Linked DNA regions of Homo sapiens. The protein of the gene in region 3 interacts with the protein of the main gene of each other region in a pairwise test. Each region holds a gene or a part of one and is shown on either strand. Other genes may lie near its edges.

Region 1 (4,726 bases), on a different chromosome or scaffold from region 3:
CCGCTTCCCAGGAACTCTGCTGTCGAACCTGCCGTGACAATTCTGACAGCGTGATCCTCTCAGTTTACAAAAAAAAAAATTAAATCAGTGATAGGATTTTCTGAGTTTGGAGTTCTTTTGCCAGTATATATTTTAAACTTTGTATTTTGAAGTAATTTCAAACTTCAAAAGTCGGCTGGGTATGGTGGCTCATGCCTGTAATCTCAGCAGTTTGGGAGACCAAGGCAGGTGGATCACCTGAGGTCAGGAGTTCAAGACCAGCCTGGCCAACATGGTGAAACCCCGTCTCTGCTGAAAATACAAAAATTAGCTGGGCGTGGTGGTGGGCGCCTGTGATTCCAGCTACTCGGGAGGCTGAGGCAGGAGAATAGCTTGAATCCTAGAGGCGGAAGTTGTGGTGAGCTGAGATTGCACCACTCACTGCACTCCAGCCTGGGCAATAGAGCGAGACTCCGTCTCAAAAAAAAACTTCAGAAGTTGTAAGAACAGCACCAGGAGCCCCTCTCATCCTTTCCCAGGTTCAGCAGTTGTTCCCATTTGCCAGGTTGGCTTCTTCATCCTCTTTCTATCTGAATAGCTCTAAGCACATCGGCATTACTTCCCATACCCAGTACGTTCTTAACCCTGGGAACCTGCTGCCACTGGTCAGTGACAGATGAAGGCCACGGCCGAACAAATGAAGTAACTGTTGTTGGAAAACCTGGAAACCACTTGATCCAACTTATTATTATTTTTTTTAGACAGAGTCTCACTCTGTCGCCCAGGCTGGAGTGCAGTGGCATGATCTCGGCTTACCACAACCTCTGCCTCCCGGGTTCAAGCAATTCTCATGCCTCAGCCTCCCAAGTAGCTGGGATTACAGGCGCCCACCACCACACCTGACTAATTTTTTTGTGTTTTTAGTAGAGATGGGGTTTCACATGTTGGCCAGGCTGGTCTTGAACTCCTGGCCTTAAGCGATCTGCCCACCCTGGCCTCCCAAAGATCTGGGATTACAGACATGAGCCACCGTGCTCGGCCTGATTTTTCTTTAGACCTGTGTGCCCATGGCTGTCATTTGATCCTGTTCCTGTTCTCTGTGGGTAGAACTGTCCCTGGTTCATGTGATGGAAGTCAAGGTCTCTGTACTTCGTGGTGTTCTACAGACAGCACGTGGCCTGCCACCTGAGCCGGTCCAGGAGCCACTGCTCACTGGGCCTCAGCTGACTGTGCAGGGTCCCTGGGCATCGTGACGCCCAGCTGCAGGCTGCTAGGGGGCCACTGGGACTGGCTGTTTCCCCTGCCTGACACCCTCCTTTCTGTCTTGAAGTAGGTTCTTCGCAGACAGTGGCGCAGACCCCAAGGGAGAACCAGGCTCCAAACAGAGCCCTCCAATGGCTTCCAGCCCCATCCAGCCCAGGAAGGGAGGAGCTGACTGGTTGGGCCTCAAGGACGAGGACTTGGACCTGTTCCCTGCCTCACCCACCAGAGAGGCCCATCGGGAAAGTTCAGTGCCTGTCACGCCCTCAGTGCCTCCTCCTGCGAGCCAGCACTCCACGCCAGCTGGGCTGCCCCCCTCCAGGGCAAAGCCACCAACTGAAGGTGCAGGGTCCCCTGCCAAAGCCAGCCAGGCTTCCAAGCTGCGAGCCTCCAAGGAGGAGAAAGAGGACTGGCTGAGCCATGCCCTGTCTCGGAAGAAGTCCCAAGGCCTGGCCAGAGAGCAGCATGCTGGGACCTCTGAGGGCCTGCATTTGGCGGGGACAGCGGGCCATCCCCCTTCTGGCAGGTACTGACTTAGGCTGCTGTGGCTAGTAGGGGGAGGACTGGCTGGGGACTTGAGGAGCCCCTTTGCCCCTTCACCTGTTGCAGCCTCAGTCAGCAGTTGGGGAACAAGGCAGGGCGCCGTGGCCACAGAGGCCGCTTCTTGGCTTTGCTACTCTGCCTTTTAGGCACTGCAGAGAGAGCCTCTGGCTCCCAGGCTTGCCCCAGGGACATACCCAAGAAGGAGGGCTGTTGACATTCATGCCCTGACCGCCATGGGGACAGGTGCTAACTTGATCGAGGAGAAGACAGAGGGTCCCTGAGGTGGCAGACACACCGCTGCCCTGTCACAGCGCCCTCAGGCTGGAAGCCCCGGCATCCAAACAGCCGGTGCTTCTGCCGACTCCACTGAAGCGAGTATGGCGTGTGTGAGCTGAGATGTCCCTGTGCTCTTTGAGAGTGTTAGAGGAGACATAGTGGCCGAGAGGCGCCTCTTGGAGAAGCCCTTATCCGTGGGGCAGGATAGCGAGTGACCTCTGAAGGCAGGAAGGCACAAGGGGCCAGCAGGCTGGGGGAGTCCAGAGGAAGTGGTGAGATGTGCTGTGGCCAGAGCCCAGGGGAGTGAACTGGGCAATTTGTGACAGCCCAGGGACATCACCCTGTCCTGGGGTTGATGACAGGAGGGCAGTTTTGACTTTGACCTGAGGCCGAGGGGAAAGCTCAGGCCAAAACAGAAAAGAGCCTGTCTCTTCACTGACCCGTGAGCCGAGAAAGAGGTGGAAATAATGGGAAAGGGAGCCAGCCAGATTTGGTAGACTGAGCAGAATCCTAATCTAGAGCTGAGCCAAGTTAAGTGGACTGGAACAGGGCTCTGAACTTGAACTTGACTCCAGTGTCTATAACATTTCCGTTGTCACTGCTTGGACAGTGTCCATTCACTGCACCACTGTGGACATTGAGGCAGGAAGGGGGTACTGGAAGGGAAGAGATGCCCAGAAATCCCAGGAGCTCAGACGTGGGAGGAGAATGCCCCAAGACGGGATGGTGGAAGCAGGAGGAAGGGGGGCCACGAGCTTCACGTGTGAAGCCCGTCCTGGGCCCTGTCTTCATCCAGCCTGACCTGGGCCTTCTGTCACCTTCACCTTGAACGCTGCCTTTCCTCAGCCAACCTCTCACCAGCACACAAGGGCTTGAGCACGCAGCTGCTGGAGGGAGTTCTGGAACAACTGCACGAGAAAGACCGTGTGTCAGGCCTGGTGTCTCGGGGTAGGCCTGGGCTGCGGGCTGAGTGGGAATGAGAGCATGGTGGGCAGCACAGGCCTCTGTCCTGAGAGAGGGACACAGAGGCTGTTCACCCTGCCCCTGCCCCGTCCCCGTGTCCCACACAGAGGCTGCCCACCCTGCTCCGTCCCTGTGCCCTACACAGAGGCTGCCCACCCTGCCCCATCCCCGTGTCCCACCTAGAGGCTGCCCACCCTGCCCCGTCCCCGTGTCCCAGCAGAGGCTGCCCACCCTGCCCCATCCCCGTGTCCCACGTAGAGGCTGCCCACCCTGCCCCGTCCCCATGTCCCACCTAGAGGCTGCCCACCCTGCCCCGTCCCCGTGTCCCACACAGAGGCTGCTCACCATGCCCCATCCCTGTGTCCTCAGGTCCCCTGTGACTCAGAACCATGCCGCCTCAGCACTCCCTACAGGTTCCCCAAAGAGGGGAACAGCCCCTGGAGACCTCTCAGCCACTGGTTTGTTTTTTGTTTGCTGCTTCATTTGGGAGTTTAACCCTGGGTGAGGAAGAGGTGCTTTGAGCTTCCTTTGGGGTCCCTGGGACATGAGTTACACCAGCCCCTCCTGGACACTCGCAGGCCCAGTGCCCTGGGCCTCCTGTTCATTTCTCTGTTGTTGATGTTTCAGAGCCTGCCACGTGTTTCCCGAGCACCCAGAAACCCACAGAGCCTTCCGTGCCCGTCCAGGTAGGGGTGTGGGCAGACAGGTCTAGCTCAGGGCCTAGGGAGCAATTCTCCATGCCCAGGGGCAATACCCACAGTTTGACCTGACGACCTGCCAGGAAAAATGTGTCAAACATACCAAATGTGACGTCAGCCAGCTCCCCGGGCACCCCCCACTAGAACTTGCCTGAATTTCTAGCCTCGCTGCTCCTGGGCAGAGCTGGGTGTTAATTTGCCTACATCAGTGGGGAGTTTAAGGAGGCAGCCAGGCCGGGGAGCTGGGATGCTGCAGTCAGAAAGCAGGGCCGCAGGGTCCTGTTCTGTCAAGAAAGCCTCCTCCACCCTTGCCATCCTCCCACCACACCTCTGCCTCTGTTTCCCATGTGTGGCAGTCACCTGTGACACCTGGGCCTGGGAGGTGTGCCCCCCCCCCCCCCAGGAGTGTGTCCCTGGGAGATGGTGGGTAGGGGACAGCTCGTGGGAACCAGATTAGTGTCAACATGTGGGCTTCAGGCCTGACAGGAAAAGCCAGCATCAGCTTTTGTCATAGCGAAGACTCTGCTGGGGTTCAGCCATTTGTCTGGGAAGCCGGAGACCATGCTGGGGAGGAAGCTGTTCCGGAGGGTGGAGGGAGACATGCTCCTGACCAGATCTGCAAGGGGAGGTACACTGGGGACTGCTTAGCCGCAGTGACTGTTACTTTCCAAGGCCTTGGCCCCATCTGCAGCCACAGATCAGATGCAGGGAGGTCCAGTGAGCAGTGGGCCAGGAGGTAGCTGATCTCAGCTGGGCCCCTGTCCCCTCCCTAACTAGAAACACCTCTCTTCCTCTCCTCCAGCCCCTGCTCCCAGAGTCCCTGGCCCGGAGCCTGCTGCCGAGCACAGAATACCAGAAGCAGCTCCTGGCAGCACAGGTGCAACTTCAGTGCAGCCCCGCTGAGCTCCAGGCCGAGCTGCTGCATAGCCAGGCCCGGCTGGCAGAGCTGGAGGCCCAGGTGAGGGGCAGCGGGGCCGTTGGTGCTGGTGGCAGGGTTGCGACAGGAG
Region 2 (5,525 bases), on a different chromosome or scaffold from region 3:
TTGCACTCCACCCTGGCCGAGAAGAGTGAAACTCCATCTCAAAAACAAAAACAAACAAAACACACTATCAACAAGTCACAGCTGAAGCTGTCTGTGCAGCACTCAGCAATCCCTGCCCTCCCTCCCTCCTCCACTTACAGCCAGTCACCTTAGTTTGATGGCTTTTTATTCACATTCATGTTTGTATACATTTACCATTTACTTATTATCCATAAAAATATATATTCTTCTTTTGCATGTTTTAAAATTTTATATGAATGACCTCTGTAGTTAACTTTCTGCATGCAATTTTTTTTTTCACTCTGCCCCGATGTGTATGAGGGAACAAATGCCTGAGGCTCTTTCCCAGGTAGCTGAGCTGAAAAGCAATTGGGCTTGAGGAGACCCTTTCCAGCCCCTTCCCATCTACTCACCCTGATTCCCACGGTTAGGGTCATTATCAAAATCATTCCCCTGGAAGTCTGTGACCCGTTTATTACGCATGAAAGATGGGAGGATGGCCTTGAAACCTAGAAAGAAGCAAAATGTTTATTCCTTAAGAGACAAGCTTGGGCCTGGTACGGTGGCTCATGTCTGTAGTACCAACACTTTGGGAGGCTAAGGCTGGAGGATTGCTTGAGGCCAGGAATTCAAGGCTGCAGTAAGCTATGATTGCACTACTGCACTCTAGCCTAGGTGACAGATTCAGACTGACTCAAACAAAAAAAAAAAAAAAAGAAAGAGACAAGCCGAGAGAAGGTAGAGTGGGTGTGTGTGGGGTGGGGGTAGGATGGTTGCCGGGATGCCACAGAGACAGTTGGGCTCATCAGAACAGAAGCCTAAGAGAGAGAAACGTGCAGGATCCAGGTATGAGCTCCACTGTGGCCAGTCACTGCCCTCAGCCCTGACAGGATATAGAAGAGCAGAACACCCAGAAGCTGCCTTGCGATTTTTCCCTACACAAAAGGAAAATGTGAGGTACTTTCTGCAGCCTAAGAAATAGCCAAAGCAGGAAAAGGGATGCTCATGTGTCCCCAGACTTGTCTGTACCTAGAACTTTCTGTTACCTAGTTTAGTCATGGCCTCATACTTTCTCTTCATATACACATAGACGATTTTCTCCGAGACTTTCATCTTTTCCCACTCTTCCTTAGAGAAGTATTTGGCAATATCATCGAAGGCCTACAAAAAAAAAAAAAAGGAATTATGGCAGGGACTCAGCTAGGCATGTCTGCCATTCAGCTGGAGTCGCTTCCTGTGTGCTGGATCTGGGAAGTGGGGATAATCCTTCCTGGTTGATGCCACGGCTAACTGACAGAACATGAGGGACCTTCCTAGCTTCACCCCTGCCACACTGTCGGGCTTTAATGCTGCTGGCTGGCTCTCCTCCCACCTTCCAGAATGGACTGAGAGTCACCAAATGTAGTGCAAGGTCACAGACTTGTCTCCAGGGATGCTAGGTGATGACAGAGTGAGGGTGGGAGGCTCCCAAGGGTCCAGATCTCCCCTGAGACCCTGCTCCTTGTCTCCAGTATCTCTGTCCTCCCCTCCTCAGAAACCGGGTCACCCCACACTGTCCCCTGGGTCACTACTCTGCTCCCTCTAGGTCACCTCACCTTTTGTATCTTCTCTGGTATTTGAGCACCAACCGTGGGTCTCCTTGCAAAGGTGTCATCTCCGTTCATGGCACAGGGAGTAGTCTGACCTGCAAGAGAAACAGATTGAGACTTTCCAGCCGCAGGACCTTTGGTCTTGTGGAGGGAGAAATCAGTGAAGGCCGGCCACTCAGTCACCTGGAATCAGGTGCTGCATTTCTCCATCCGGGGCTTATCTGTCCCTGAGTAAGGATATGGGGAGAAATCAGACGAAAACCAGGAACCAGGGGTCTCTGGGAGAAGTATTGATAGGGGATGACAGGTTTCCTATGGGCAAAGCAGCCTTGAGTCTTTGGGAGGGGGTTGGCTAATGTTGTTAGTAATTTCCCTGGAGCTAGGCTTCCCCTGAAAGATGTATGGACCCTTGTTGGGGAGGCAGGGACATGACTGTGTAATTTTATTCAGTGGGGCATGCTGACACCCCCGCTCAATAAATAAAGGAAGGGAAGTTAGTCCCAGAGATAACGTGGTCTCTTTGGTGATGGATCTGATCAGGCAGAGGGATGGGGGGTTCTGTTCTGCTGAAGAGAAATGAGCATCGCTAATATGAATGTGTTCAGAGGCTATTACTGGGTGATTTGTAAGTTATTAGAACGAAGAGAGCTAGAATTTCTGAGACTACAAGAGCCCGCCATCACTTAGAGAGAATGTGGGGCATTTCAAGTTGCAGCAATCAGCCAGGCGCAGTGGCTCAGGCCTGTAATCCCAGCACTTTGGGAGGCCGAGGCGTGCAGGTCACTTGAGCCCAGGAGGTCGAGACCCGGCTGGGAAACACAGCAAAACCCCCGTCTACAAAATAAACAAAAAGTTAGCTGGGGTTGGTGGAGCAGGCCTGTACCATCCCAGCACTTTGGAAGGCCAAGGTGGGCGGATCGCCTTAGCCCAGGAGCTTGAGACCAGGCTCACAAACGTAGCAAAACCATCTCTACTAAAAAAAACAAACAAACAAAATTTAGCAGAAGCGGGGTGGTGCGCGCCTGTAGTCCCAAGGCCTAGGTGAGAAGATCACTTGAGCCCAGCAGGAAAGATTTGAGTGATTTTTTTTTTCAGACAGGGTCTCGCTCTGTTGCCCAGTCGGGAGTGCACTGGCGTGATCATGGCTCACTGCAACCTCCGCCTCTTGGGTTCAGGCAATCCACCAGCTGTGGCTTCCAAAAGTGCAGGGATTACAAGTGTAAGCCACCACCCCAGGCCCAAATTTCTTAAGTTACTACAGAGTTCCTAGGAAAAATCCCATACCTGAAAAAGTTAGAAACTGACAGGAAAGATTTGAGATGGCGGTTAGAAACTGACAGGAAAGATTTAAGATGGCGGCCTGCCTCATATACACTCCTTATTAAAACTAGATAGCAAATGCACCACGGAGGAGGGGAGGGGTAGGAAGAATGGAAAAAGAAAATCAGTGTATTCTTACTCTGATTTTGGAAGAATCCAAAGAGAAAATCAGACCGTGCGTACTCTTGAGTATGGAAGAATCGAAAGAGAGAGAAAATCAGAGCATGCGTACTCTGAACTTAAAGTAGCGAATCCCAGGGGATGCTTTAGGCGGGAAAATTAGAGTCTCCACCCCCACTTTGAGAAGGTTGTGTCCCTGGAGCCGGGACTGATAGAAGCCACATCCGCTTCGCTTGTTCCGCCTACTGTTCTGACTTCTAATTGGCCAGATGGAGTTCACTAACTGCCCTGATTGGTCCATCATCCTTGGGCAGCGACATTGCAGAATAATGTCTCCTCCTCCAGCCACACCTTGTCGCCACTGCGAAAAAGTGGGTGGTCCTCAGGCGCCGTCAGATTTTGATCTCTCTGAAGACTGTTCCTGGATCTTGGGTTAAAAATCTGGATTCTAGTCTGAACTGTGGGAAGAAAAAAATAGTCAATCTGTGATTTTTCTACTTGAAAGCCACAATGTTTTCCAAACTAGCACATTTGCGGAGGTTTGCTATAATTAGTCGTGGAGTTCATTCTTCAGTGGCTTCTATATCTGTTGCCACTGAAAAAACAGTCCAAGGCCCTCCAACCTCTGCTTACATTTTTGAAAGGGAATCTAAGTGTGGTGTGCAGAATTACCATCCTTTACCTGTAGCCCTGGAGAGAGGAAAATGTATTTACTTATGGGATGTGATTGTGGTATTGGTTACATCTGCCTTGGCCAATCCTCCCGCCTCTGTCTCGGGACTACAGGCGCAAACCACCCCACCCCCACTAATATTTTTTATTTTTTGATTTTTTAATAGAGAAGGTTTTGCTGTGTTGGCCAGGCTGGTCTTGACGTCCTGGGCTCAAGCGATCCTCCCACCTCGGCCTCGGGACTACAGGCATTCACCACCCTGCCTACGCTTTTTTTTTTTTTTTTTTTTTTAAGTAGAAACCAGGTTTTGCTATGTTGGCCAGGCTGGTCTCATTGGCCAGGTTGGTCTCATCGTCCTGGGCTCAAGGCATTCTTCCACCATGGCCTCGAGACTACAGGCATGCACTACCCTGCCTACGATTTTTTTTTTTTTTTTTTTTTTTTTTTTAGTAGAAACCATGTTTCCCTATGTTGGCCAGGCCGGCATCAAGCTCCTGGGCTCAAGGGATCCTCCTGCCTCAGGACCGCAGCCACGCACCACCCTGCCCAAGCTATTTTTTGTTTTGTTTTGTTTCGTTTTAGTAGAAACCAGGTTTCGATATGTTGCCCAGGCTGGCCTCAATCTCTTAGGCTCAGATGATGCTTTCATCTTGGCCTCAGGACTATAGGCGTGTGCCATTCTGCCCTGCTCATTTTTATTTTCATTTATTTATTTATTTATTTATTTATTTATTTTAGGAGAGGCAGGCTATCGCTTTGTTGGCCAGGCTGGTATCAACCTCCTGGGCTCAAGCAATCCTCCCACCTTGGCCTCAAAACTACAGGAGTGAGCCACCCCACCCACGCTATTTTTTTGTTGTTCTTGTTGTTAGTAGAAATGGGGTTTCACTATGTTGGCCAGGCTGGCCTCAACCTCCTAGGCTCAAGCAATCGTCCTGCCTTGGCCTCGGGACTACAGGTTCACACCACCCCGCCCCCACTAATATTTTTAATTTTTCTACTAGAGACAGTTTCGCTATGTTGTCCAGGCTGGTCTCTACCTCCGGGACTCAAGTGATTCTCCCGCCTCGGCCTTGGGACTACAGGCATGCACTACCCTGCCTTTTGCTATGTTTCCCAGGTTGGTCTTGACCTCCTGGGCTCACTCAATGATTTGAACCTGGGAAGCCGAGGTTGCATTGAGCTGAGATCACACCACTGCACTCCAGCTTGAGCGACAGAGCAAGACTGAAAAAAAAAAAAAAAAGAAAGAAAGAGCAAGAGAGAGATCAGCGGAATCTCCGTAAGAACAGGGAGCTTTGTGGTATTTTAACTTACCCTTGTCCCATCTCGTGCTCCCAGCTTGGTTCTGTTCATTGCTGATGAAATACAGATAGGATTGGCCAGAACTGGTAGATGGCTGGCTGTTGATCATGAAAATGTCAGACCTGATATAGTCCTCCTTGGAAAGGCCCTTTCTGGAGGTTGATACTCTGTGTCTGCAGTGCTGTGGGATGATGGCTTAATGCTGAGCATTAAGCCAGGGGAACATGGGTCCACATACGGTGGCAATCCACTAGGCTGCTGAGTGACCATCGCAGCCCTTGAGGTTTTAGAACAAGAAAATCTTGCTGAAAATGCAGAAAAAAAATGGGTATTATCGTGAGAAGTGAACCCATGAAGCTACCTTCTGATGTTGTAACTGCCATAAAAGGAACAGAATTATTATTATTATTATTATTTGAGTCAGAGGTTCACTCTGGTTGCCCAGGATGGAGTGCAATGGTGCAATCTTGGCTCACTGCAACCTCTGCCTCCTGGGTTCAAGCGATTCTCCTACCTCA
Region 3 (4,726 bases):
CACCTACCACCTGAGGTTATTTTGAAATGGCACCAAGCACCTCACTCAATTAAATAAAGACATTTTGAAAATATAAATATTTAATAAGAGAAATTTAAACTCCACACAGGAGATGTTCTTTTTTATTAAATATCATTTCAGTATATGCATACAAAGGAAATGTCGATTGGAGACATTTGAAGTAAAACAACTTAACTATATAATATAGATTGATAATGGGAAGGAAAGCAATATCATTATTAAACCTGCAAAAAGCTAGTTAGTGAACTTTGGCATTGTCCTAATATCTAGCCTGATACTTTCTTTAAAACTGTTCAAAGTAATTATAAATTTCCTCTTTTAGTTTAAGTTATCTATAAGCCTTTACAGTATGCTTATTTTGGAGAAGGCGTCCCATAGAACTAGGATGGATATGAAACAAGGACAGTCAGCATACCAAATGAAACCACTTCAGGATTCAAACCCCTAAGAATACGGACTGTTACTAAGCGCTGGTCAACTGGTTACTACACAGAAAATTAGAATAGTGTGTAGTGCCACATTTGTAGAGTGCAAAAAATACCTTTTTTCATGGTTTGCACATTGTTATTAATCTAACTATCCCTACTTCATTTCTTCTCAGATTTTTCTACCAACCCATATGCTTAAAGGCTGTCTCTTGCCCATTTTACTATTTTTTCTGTGTCCTCTCACTTTCTGCATTCTTGTCTGTTCCAAGTTCCAATTTTCTTCAGCTCACCCTCTTTATCTCCATGAAAGATGCAAGAAAGAAAGAAAGAAAAGAAGAAACAAACTAAAAGCTAAACCTTAAAAAAGGTACTTGTTTATGTTCTTTATATTTAAAACATTAGTTATATTTTAATTGTTAATTACGTTTTAAATTACACAAAGTGCATATATACAAAGTATTCAGCTTGAAAAAATGTGAAGAACAAAATACAGAACAAATGCAGAAATCTAGAAGACCCCCCAGTGTTCCCTCCCATTTTTTCCCCTCCCCAAAAGGTAAGTACTAATCCAACCTTTATCAAAATGTAAATTGCCTATTTTTAAACTTTTTGTCTGGCTTATTTTCCTCAACAATTGGTAAGTGAAGTTCACCTTGCTGTTGCATATAATTCATTGCTTTTTATTGCTATAAAATATTCTGTTATATACATATGCCGTAACTTATTTAACTGTCCACAGTTGTTGCTATGGATATTCCTGTACATGTCTTTTGATGGACCTAGGTATTCATGTGTAAAGTAGAATTTCTCCAAAGGGTATGCATTATTTTCAGATTTAGTACAATGATAATAGATGCTGATTTAGATTTAGATGCTGCTAATAGTCTTCCAAATTAGTTGTACCAATTTGTACTCCCATCAGCAAAATATGAGTTTCAATTGCTTTATATCCTCCCTCAGAATGGCACTGTCAAATGCTTTTAACTTTAGTTATTGTAATATGGATGCAGTGATGTTTCATTCTCTTCGTATTGTCTTATGTATGTGTATATTATTGATTGGTTGAGACAAGTTCTCACTATGTTTTCCAGGCTGACCTTGAACTCCTGGGCTCAAACAGTCCTCCTGCCTCAGCCTGCTGAGTAGCTCGGACTATGGGCATATGCCACCATGCCTGACTCTTAATGCTGTCTTTTGATGAAGGTAAGTTCTCAATTTAAATAAAGTTCAATTTATCATTGTTTCTTTAATGGCAATGCTTTTTGTAAACTGTTTAAAAAATCTTAGCCTACTCCATTCCCTTATATTTTAACTTTACATATATGGCCTAATTTAAAACTCAGTGAGACAGCTTCGTTTGGGAATTCAGCATTTGCCTATCATGCCTAAAGCAGTAACCAGTATACCGTAACCAATTACATATTAAGAATCAATGATTAGATCCCATTTGTCAATTTTGTCTTTTGTTGCCATTGCTTTTGGTGTTTTAGACATGAAGTCCTTGCCCATGCCTATGTCCTGAATGGTGATGCCTAGGTTTTCTTCTAGGGTTTTTATGGTTTTAGGTCTACCGTTTAAGTCTTTAATCCATCTTGAATTGATTTTTGTATAAGGTGTAAGGAAGGGATCCAGTTTCAGCTTTCTACATATGGCTAGCCAGTTTTCCCAGCACCATTTATTAAATAGGGAATCCTTTCCCCATTGCCTGTTTTTCTCAGGTTTGTCAAAGATCAGATCTATGCGGTGTTATTTCTGAGGGCTCTGTTCTGTTCCATTGATCTATATCTCTGTTTTGGTACCAGTACCATGCTGTTTTGGTTACTGTAGCCTTGTAGTATAGTTTGAAGTCAGGTAGTGTGATGCCTCCAGCTTTGTTCTTTTGGCTTAGGATTGACTTGGCGATGCAGACTCTTTTTTGGTTCCATACGAACTTTAAAGTAGTTTTTTCCAATTCTGTGAAGAAAGTCATTGGTAGCTTGATGGGGATGGCATTGAATCTGTAAATTACCTTGGGCAGTATGGCCATTTTCACGATATTGATTATTCCTACCCATGAGCATGGAATGTTCTTCCATTTGTTTGTATCCTCTTTTATTTCATTGAGCAGTGGTTTGTAGTTCTCCTTGAAGAGGTCCTTCACATCCCTTGTAAGTTGGATTCCTAGGTATTTTATTCTCTTTGAAGCAATTGTGAATGGGAGTTCACTCATGATTTGGCTCTCTGTTTGTCTGTTATTGGTGTATAAGAATGCTTGTGATTTTTGTACATTGATTTTGTATCCTGAGACTTTGCTGAAGTTGCTTATCAGCTTAAGGAGGTTTTGGGCTGAGACAATGGGGTTTTCTAGATATACAATCATGTCGTCTGCAAACAGGGACAATTTGACTTCCTCTTTTCCTAATTGAATACCCTTTATTTCCTTCTTCTGCCTAATTGCCCTGGCCAGAACTTCCAACACTATGTTGAATAGGAGTGGTGAGAGAGGGCATCCCTGTCTTGTGCCAGTTTTCAAAGGGAATGCTTCCAGTTTTTGCCCATTCAGTATGATATTGGCTGTGGGTTTGTCATAGATAGCTCTTATTATTTTGAAATACGTCCCAACAATACCTAATTAAAGAGCTTCTGCACAGCAAAAGAAACTACCATCAGAGTGAACAGGCAACCTACAAAATGGGATAAAATTTTCACAACCTACTCATCTGACAAAGGGCTAATATCCAGAATCTACAATGAACTCAAACAAATTTACAAGAAAAAAACAAACAACCCCATCAAAAAGTGGGCGAAGGACATGAACAGACACTTCTCAAAAGAAGACATTTATGCAGCCAAAAAACACATGAAAAAATGCTCATCATCACTGGCCATCAGAGAAATGCAAATCAAAACCACAATGAGATACCATCTCACACCAGTTAGAATGGCAATCATTAAAAAGTTAGGAAACAGGTGCTGGAGAGGATGTGGAGAAATAGGAACACTTTTACACTGTTGGTGGGACTGTAAACTAGTTCAACCATTGTGGAAGACAGTGTGGCGATTCCTCAGGGATCTAGAACTAGAAATACCATTTGACCCAGCCATCCCATTACTGGGTATATACCCAAAGGACTATAAATCATGCTGCTATAAAGACACATGCACACGTATGTTTATTGTGGCACTATTCACAATAGCAAAGACTTGGAACCAACCCAAATGTCCAACAATGATAGACTGGATTAAGAAAATGTGGCACATATACACCATGGGATACTATGCAGCCATAAAAAAGGATGAGTTCATGTCCTTTGTAGGGACATGGATGAAATTGGAAATCATCATTCTCAGTAAACTATCGCAAGAACAAAAAACCAAACACCGCATAGTCTCACTCATAGGTGGGAATTGAACAATGAGATCACATGGACACAGGAAGGGGAACATCACACTCTGGGGACTGTGGTGGGGTGGGGGGAGGGGGGAGGGATAGCATTGGGAGATATACCTAATGCTAGATGACGAGTTAGTGGGTGCAGCGCACCAGCATGGCACATGTATACATATGTAACTAACCTGCACAATGTGCCATGTACCCTAAAACTTAAAGTATAATAAAAAAAATATTAAAAAAAAAAAAAAGAAAAATTACCTAGAAAAAAAAAGAATCAATGATTAAGTTTTAAAAGTCTCACCATTATGAAAATTATGAGCATCCTGATTTAATTTCCTAATCACTCCTCACTTTCTAGTCTTCTATCATTTAATTTTTAGGGGGCAAATTTATACCTGATTTTGATTTTTCTCTCAGATGGACATGTTTGGATTGTACCCGCAAGTTCAAAAGCTGCTTAGCATTCAAAATACCTTGGAAACCTGTTAATTACCATCAAGGCTTTCCCAAGCAATGGACATGATCTTTTTAAAAAGATGGAAGTAGACAATGTCACTTAAAAACCTGCAATAGCATGTCCTTGCATTCAGAAAACAGTCTTTAAAAATAATAAATGCTATATGTTAACTCACTAAATGTCACAACTTGCATGAGAAGTCTTATTAATATTCCTTTTTTTACTGATACAAATGGAAACAGAGATAAGTAATTTAATACATGTAGCAGAGCCAGAATTTGAACCTACAGTCTTTATGTCTGCACTGGAAACCTCTTCTATACTTGCTGTGGTCTATAAAGCCCTGCATCACTGACCTCTCTACCTCCTTCCTCACCTTTTAGCTAGGCATTCAGATTCTCAAGCGTGTCAAGTTTTTTCTGCTGAAGGTATTTGTTTGGAATGCCT
Region 4 (4,726 bases), on a different chromosome or scaffold from region 3:
GCGTGAAGGCAGTTTGATTAGTTGTTATCTTATTTGGCCCTAGAGAGTAAAACTTTGTCATCATAATTGCTAATTACTCTTTTGGCTGGGGGCGGGAGGACCGAGAGCTCTCCCCTTTACCTCAGTTAAAGAGTTTGGGGATGGAATTTGAGAATTAAGTAATTAAAAAAAGAACAGCATTTGAAAACTGAGGCTTGTGTTGGGGACAGAGAGGTGGGGGCAGTGACCACTCTCTTGTGGTCCAAGGCTGGGGCGACTCCAAAATGTCTGGAGACTCCTTCGTTCAGGATGTGGTTCTATGGCCCCAGCGAGGCCGTACAGAGCCTCGGGCTGAGCTGGGGGGCTGAGGCTGCAGTTGGGGGTCTGACCTCTCCGGTGCACAGGACTGCTTCCGGGTGTCGATGTGCCCCACTTCCCGGGTTGCTTCTGCACTTAGTGTTCACGTTTACTTAAGTAATTAGATAGCTTCTTAGCGAGAGGGAAGTGGGAATGGAGCAGAACTGGAATTTGAAATACTACCACCTTCCCAGCTGCTTCGAAAACTAATCAACGAGGCCTCTTTGTGCTCAGCTACTGAATTTAAAAAAAAATGGTATCAAGAAGTTACAAGCCAGGATGGGAGCATTCTGTTGTGATTGTGCACAGCGTGGGTTACAAAGTGGAGTTCTGGAAGTTTTACCCCTCCTAGGGGAATTCCATTCCCCATCTCCCCACCTACTACTCCTTTGCAGCTTCAGGGTCCTGCATTTGTTGGGGTGGGGTATTTTGCATTAGAGTTGGAGATTTTGCCTATCCAGGGCATGGCTATGGGTGCCGGGACTGAGAGACAGGAAGGAAGCATTGGAGAGCCAACCTAGATAAGGGTAACTAGTAACCCTCTGCTGTGGCCAGTATTTACCCAATGCTGAGAAAAAGTCCTCATTTTCGGTTTATTTTTATGGATTTAAGCTGTCTACCAAGTAGTTAAAAAGTAGACCAGGAATGGCCTTGTAGAGTAAAATGTGCTTCTTGAAATTCTTTGCTTGCAGGCAGGCAGATCAATAATCACCATAGGTAAAACAGAAAAAATAATGCATTTAAAAAAAAACAGAGAGAAATGATGCTGTGACTGTTTTGTTATTTTACCTCTTTTTGGGGGGCAGACCTCTTGAATGGGCTCTTTATTGTAACTCTCTCTTCCCAATTGAGCTCCCCACGGTGCCGTTGTATCTTTTTACAGCCCCTAACAACTCACACCAGTAACACAATTACCTCCAGATATTTACAACAAGAAATTACTTTTCTATTTTCTCCACTCACCCAAAAGACTTTTTTTTTTTTTCCTTTGGGAAAGGTAGGGAGGTGTTCGTACGGGAGCAGCCTCGGGGACCCCTGCACTGGGTCAGGGCTTATGAAGCTAGAAGCGTCCCTCTGTTCCCTTTGTGAGTTGGTGGGTTGTTGGTACATTTGGTTGGAAGCTGTGTTGCTGGTTAGGGAGACTCGGTTTTGCTCCTTGGGTTCGAGGAAAGCTGGAGAATAGAAGCCATTGTTTGCCGTCTGTCGGCTTTGTCGACCACGCTCACCCCCTCCTGTTCGTACTTTTTAAAGCAGTGAGGCGAGGTAGACAGGGTGTGTCACAGTACAGTTAAAGGGGTGAAGATCTAAACGCCAAAAGAGAAGTTAATCACAATAAGTGAGGTTTGGGATAAAAAGTTGGGCTTGCCCCTTTCAAAGTCCCAGAAAGCTGGGAGGTAGATGGAGAGGGGGCCATTGGGAAGTTTTTTTGGTGTAGGGAGAGGAGTAGAAGATAAAGGGTAAGCAGAGTGTTGGGTTCTGGGGGTCTTGTGAAGTTCCTTAAGGAAGGAGGGAGTGTGGCCCTGCAGCCCTCCCAAACTGCTCCAGCCTATGCTCTCCGGCACCAGGAAGTTCCAAGGTTCCCTTCCCCTGGTCTCCAAACTTCAGGTATTCCTCTCCCCTCACACCCCTTCAACCTCAGCTCTTGGCCTCTACTCCTTACTCCACTGTTCCTCCTGTTTCCCCCTTCCCCTTTTCCTGGTTCTTTATATTTTTGCAAAGTGGGATCCGAACTTGCTAGATTTTCCAATTCTCCCAAGCCAGACCAGAGCAGCCTCTTTTAAAGGATGGAGACTTCTGTGGCAGATGCCGCTGAAAATGTGGGTGTAATGCTGGGACTTAGAGTTTGATGACAGTTTGACTGAGCCCTAGATGCATGTGTTTTTCCTGAGAGTGAGGCTCAGAGAGCCCATGGACGTATGCTGTTGAACCACAGCTTGATATACCTTTTTCTCCTTCTGTTTTGTCTTAGGGGGAAGACTTTAACTAGGGGCGCGCAGATGTGTGAGGCCTTTTATTGTGAGAGTGGACAGACATCCGAGATTTCAGGCAAGTTCTGTGGTGGCTGCTTTGGGCTCAAAACCCACAAACAGTCAAAACAAACTATTTCAGTATGCTTCTTCACTATAGTTCAGATAGAAGAAAATAAATCAAAATTGGGGCATCGCTTCTACTGATTAAAGGGTTAACTGCTAAAGAATGTAGGGGAAACAGATTGGGGATATTCCAGTACTTTGTTTCAAGCCCCAAAGGGTAGATTTTGTATGCACTGCAGGGCAGAGCTGAGTGACCCTCAGATCGCCCCAAGAGGTTGAGTGGATCAATTCCTAAAGAACGGAGATTCTCCTGTCCTAGCCCCAGGTCCACCTCGGTTGGGAGTTCAGGCCTACCTGATGCAGCTGCCCGAGGATTAACTCCTATTTTCTTGCTAACAGAGCCCCATATTCGAGCCCCGTGGAATCCCGCGGCCCCCAGCCAGAGCCAGCATGCAGAACAGTAAGTGCCTCTGGTCTTTCTGGGACTTCGGGCTCGGGGTGCGCGGACCCGAGGGTCAGGGGAGGACACAGGGACTCGCGACGCCCGCGCTGGCCCGGCCGCCGACCGACTGAGGCCCGGGGACCTGCGGCGGCTGCTCCCCGCTCCGCGCCCGGCAGCCCGGGAGGGGAGGGCGTTTGCTTGGCTCTTCTCGATACTGGAGAAGCAGGGGCTGGGCCCTTAAGAACAGCCCGCCCGAGTTTTCGAAGCTGCGGTAGAGAAACCCCATCCCCCCCAAATCCTGTAACTCACACCCCCTCTCGCCCCTGCCCGGGCTCTGACCCCGGAGAGAGGGGCTGGGCTGATCAGGGCGGGGCGAAGTCTTCTCCTAGTTGAGCGAGAAGGAGGCCCCTTTGGGCTTAGCCAAGACTGAAAGTCTCCACCAACCCGGCGGGGTTGGGGGCTTCTCTCCCCAAGTCACTCTCAGGGCAGCTCCTCCCCTCCTCACCCCACTACGGGCCTAGAAGGGATGGGGAGAGGAGCCCCCAGGCCTGCAGCAGGGTAGGGGTGGTAAACTCGCTGTTACAGGGCGCGGGAGAGAGCACGGTTTACTGGGTCTGGTAAGGAGGTGCCCAGGAATTGGAAAATCCCTGCCCTGGCAACTGCAATTGCTTGGGTCCTGATAGTCCCAGGCCCAGAGCGCTTTTGATACTTATGGCCCTTGTACCTCCCTGCTTTCCTCTGCCCAGACCCCGTGGGGTCCCACCCACCTTCCTGTTCGTGGTGGGTGCTGGTACGCGGCAGGGCTAGTCTAGAGCTCCGACCTGGGAGCCTGGAGGCCCAGCGAAACCAGGCCCGGTTTGAGGTTACGGTTGAGGCACACGGCGTCGGGGCTCAACTGAACTCAAAGTGTGGAAAGGCCCGGGTCTTCCAGCAGCCTGCCCTGGCCGAACCACACAGGCTTAAGGAGGGTCCCCAGCACCTTATCCATCTGTTTTGGAAACGCCGGTCGCCCCCTGGTGCTTCCGGGGCTGGTAAGCGCGTAGCTGAGGAAAGGGCACAAAGGTGGCGAGCTTTGCGGGAGTAGTTGTGCAGAACCTGCCGGACCCCAGGGCTTGGCCGGTAGGCTCGCCTTCGGCGGCTGGGCTCTCCCCTTGGAGCTCAGACTCCCCAGCCGCAGGCTGTCTCTCGGGCGGGCCCCAGCCAGGGCGCGCAGCCCTGAGCGTTTGTCGCTGCGGCCCGGCTGGCAGGCCCCGAGGGGCGCGGGGTCGCGGGCCGGCCGGCAGGGCTTTGTGCCGCTCGTTCCCGGGTGTGCGCGAGGCGCGGAGCATCCAAATTGACACCATATGTTTTCCTATTAGTTGCTTCGCGGTCGAGTTCTAGGCGCATAATCATCGCCAGTGGGCGAGAGCGCCAGCAGTCCCTAGGGAAGGGACACAATGATTGAGGCTTAACCTCTGAAGGGGAATTTGGAGCTGCGCTTTCTCTCTGCCATTTCGATGCTGGGAGTGGCGCTCTGGCCCTGGCGTCTCCTGGGCAAGCACCAGCCGGCGGTATCTGCGGAGGTGGCTGGCACGTTGTTATTTTTTGAAATGAGTGAGGAGGGAGGTCTAGATTTAGGCGGCCTTACGCGCCCGCCTTGGCATTAGCAGACTGGGAATTGCCGTGGCTATGCCCGAAGTTTGGAAAGTCTCTCTCGGTCTCTTTCTGGGACAGCCTTTCTTTTTCCGGGAAGCTTCCTGTGCCTAGAGGTGGGGCTCTGTAGCTGGAGGGGTAGATGGAACTTGCGAAGCAAAGGAAGGCAATAAAAGGAAGTTAGGAGAAACCGGAAACGTGGGCCAGGCCTTGCTCTGTTGGAGAAGCGGTGTCCCCGCAAAGTCCCTGCTTGCGCTGGTCCCGGCCGGAGCCCAGATCCCCC

What was found. The genes of interacting proteins can lie anywhere in the genome.
Region 1: the proteins of MIPOL1 (region 3) and FBF1 interact in binary tests that used the Homo sapiens proteins (3 or more experiments, as listed by UniProt).
Region 2: the proteins of MIPOL1 (region 3) and SSX3 interact in binary tests that used the Homo sapiens proteins (3 or more experiments, as listed by UniProt).
Region 4: the proteins of MIPOL1 (region 3) and PAX6 interact in binary tests that used the Homo sapiens proteins (3 or more experiments, as listed by UniProt).

What each region holds. Positions count from the first base shown.
Region 1 is NC_000017.11:75,920,225-75,924,950, reverse strand, and holds part of FBF1 (fas-binding factor 1), read left to right. Parts: intron 1-1,309; coding exon 1,310-1,765; intron 1,766-2,904; coding exon 2,905-3,006; intron 3,007-3,390; coding exon 3,391-3,479; intron 3,480-3,648; coding exon 3,649-3,707; intron 3,708-4,521; coding exon 4,522-4,677; intron 4,678-4,726. UniProt on the Homo sapiens protein: Keratin-binding protein required for epithelial cell polarization. Involved in apical junction complex (AJC) assembly via its interaction with PARD3. Required for ciliogenesis.
Region 2 is NC_000023.11:48,353,586-48,359,110, forward strand, and holds the start of SSX3 (protein SSX3), read right to left. Parts: upstream 3,119-5,525; 5' UTR 3,049-3,118; intron 1,685-3,048; 5' UTR 1,665-1,684; coding exon 1,596-1,664; intron 1,162-1,595; coding exon 1,047-1,161; intron 510-1,046; coding exon 414-509; intron 1-413. UniProt on the Homo sapiens protein: Could act as a modulator of transcription.
Region 3 is NC_000014.9:37,494,462-37,499,187, reverse strand, and holds part of MIPOL1 (mirror-image polydactyly gene 1 protein), read right to left. Parts: intron 1-4,726.
Region 4 is NC_000011.10:31,804,505-31,809,230, reverse strand, and holds part of PAX6 (paired box protein Pax-6), read left to right. Parts: intron 1-1,608; exon of another isoform or gene 1,609-1,941; intron 1,942-2,305; 5' UTR 2,306-2,333; coding exon of another isoform or gene 2,334-2,382; intron 2,383-2,768; coding exon of another isoform or gene 2,769-2,819; coding exon 2,820-2,829; intron 2,830-3,229; exon of another isoform or gene 3,230-3,842; intron 3,843-4,189; exon of another isoform or gene 4,190-4,373; intron 4,374-4,726. UniProt on the Homo sapiens protein: Transcription factor with important functions in the development of the eye, nose, central nervous system and pancreas. Required for the differentiation of pancreatic islet alpha cells.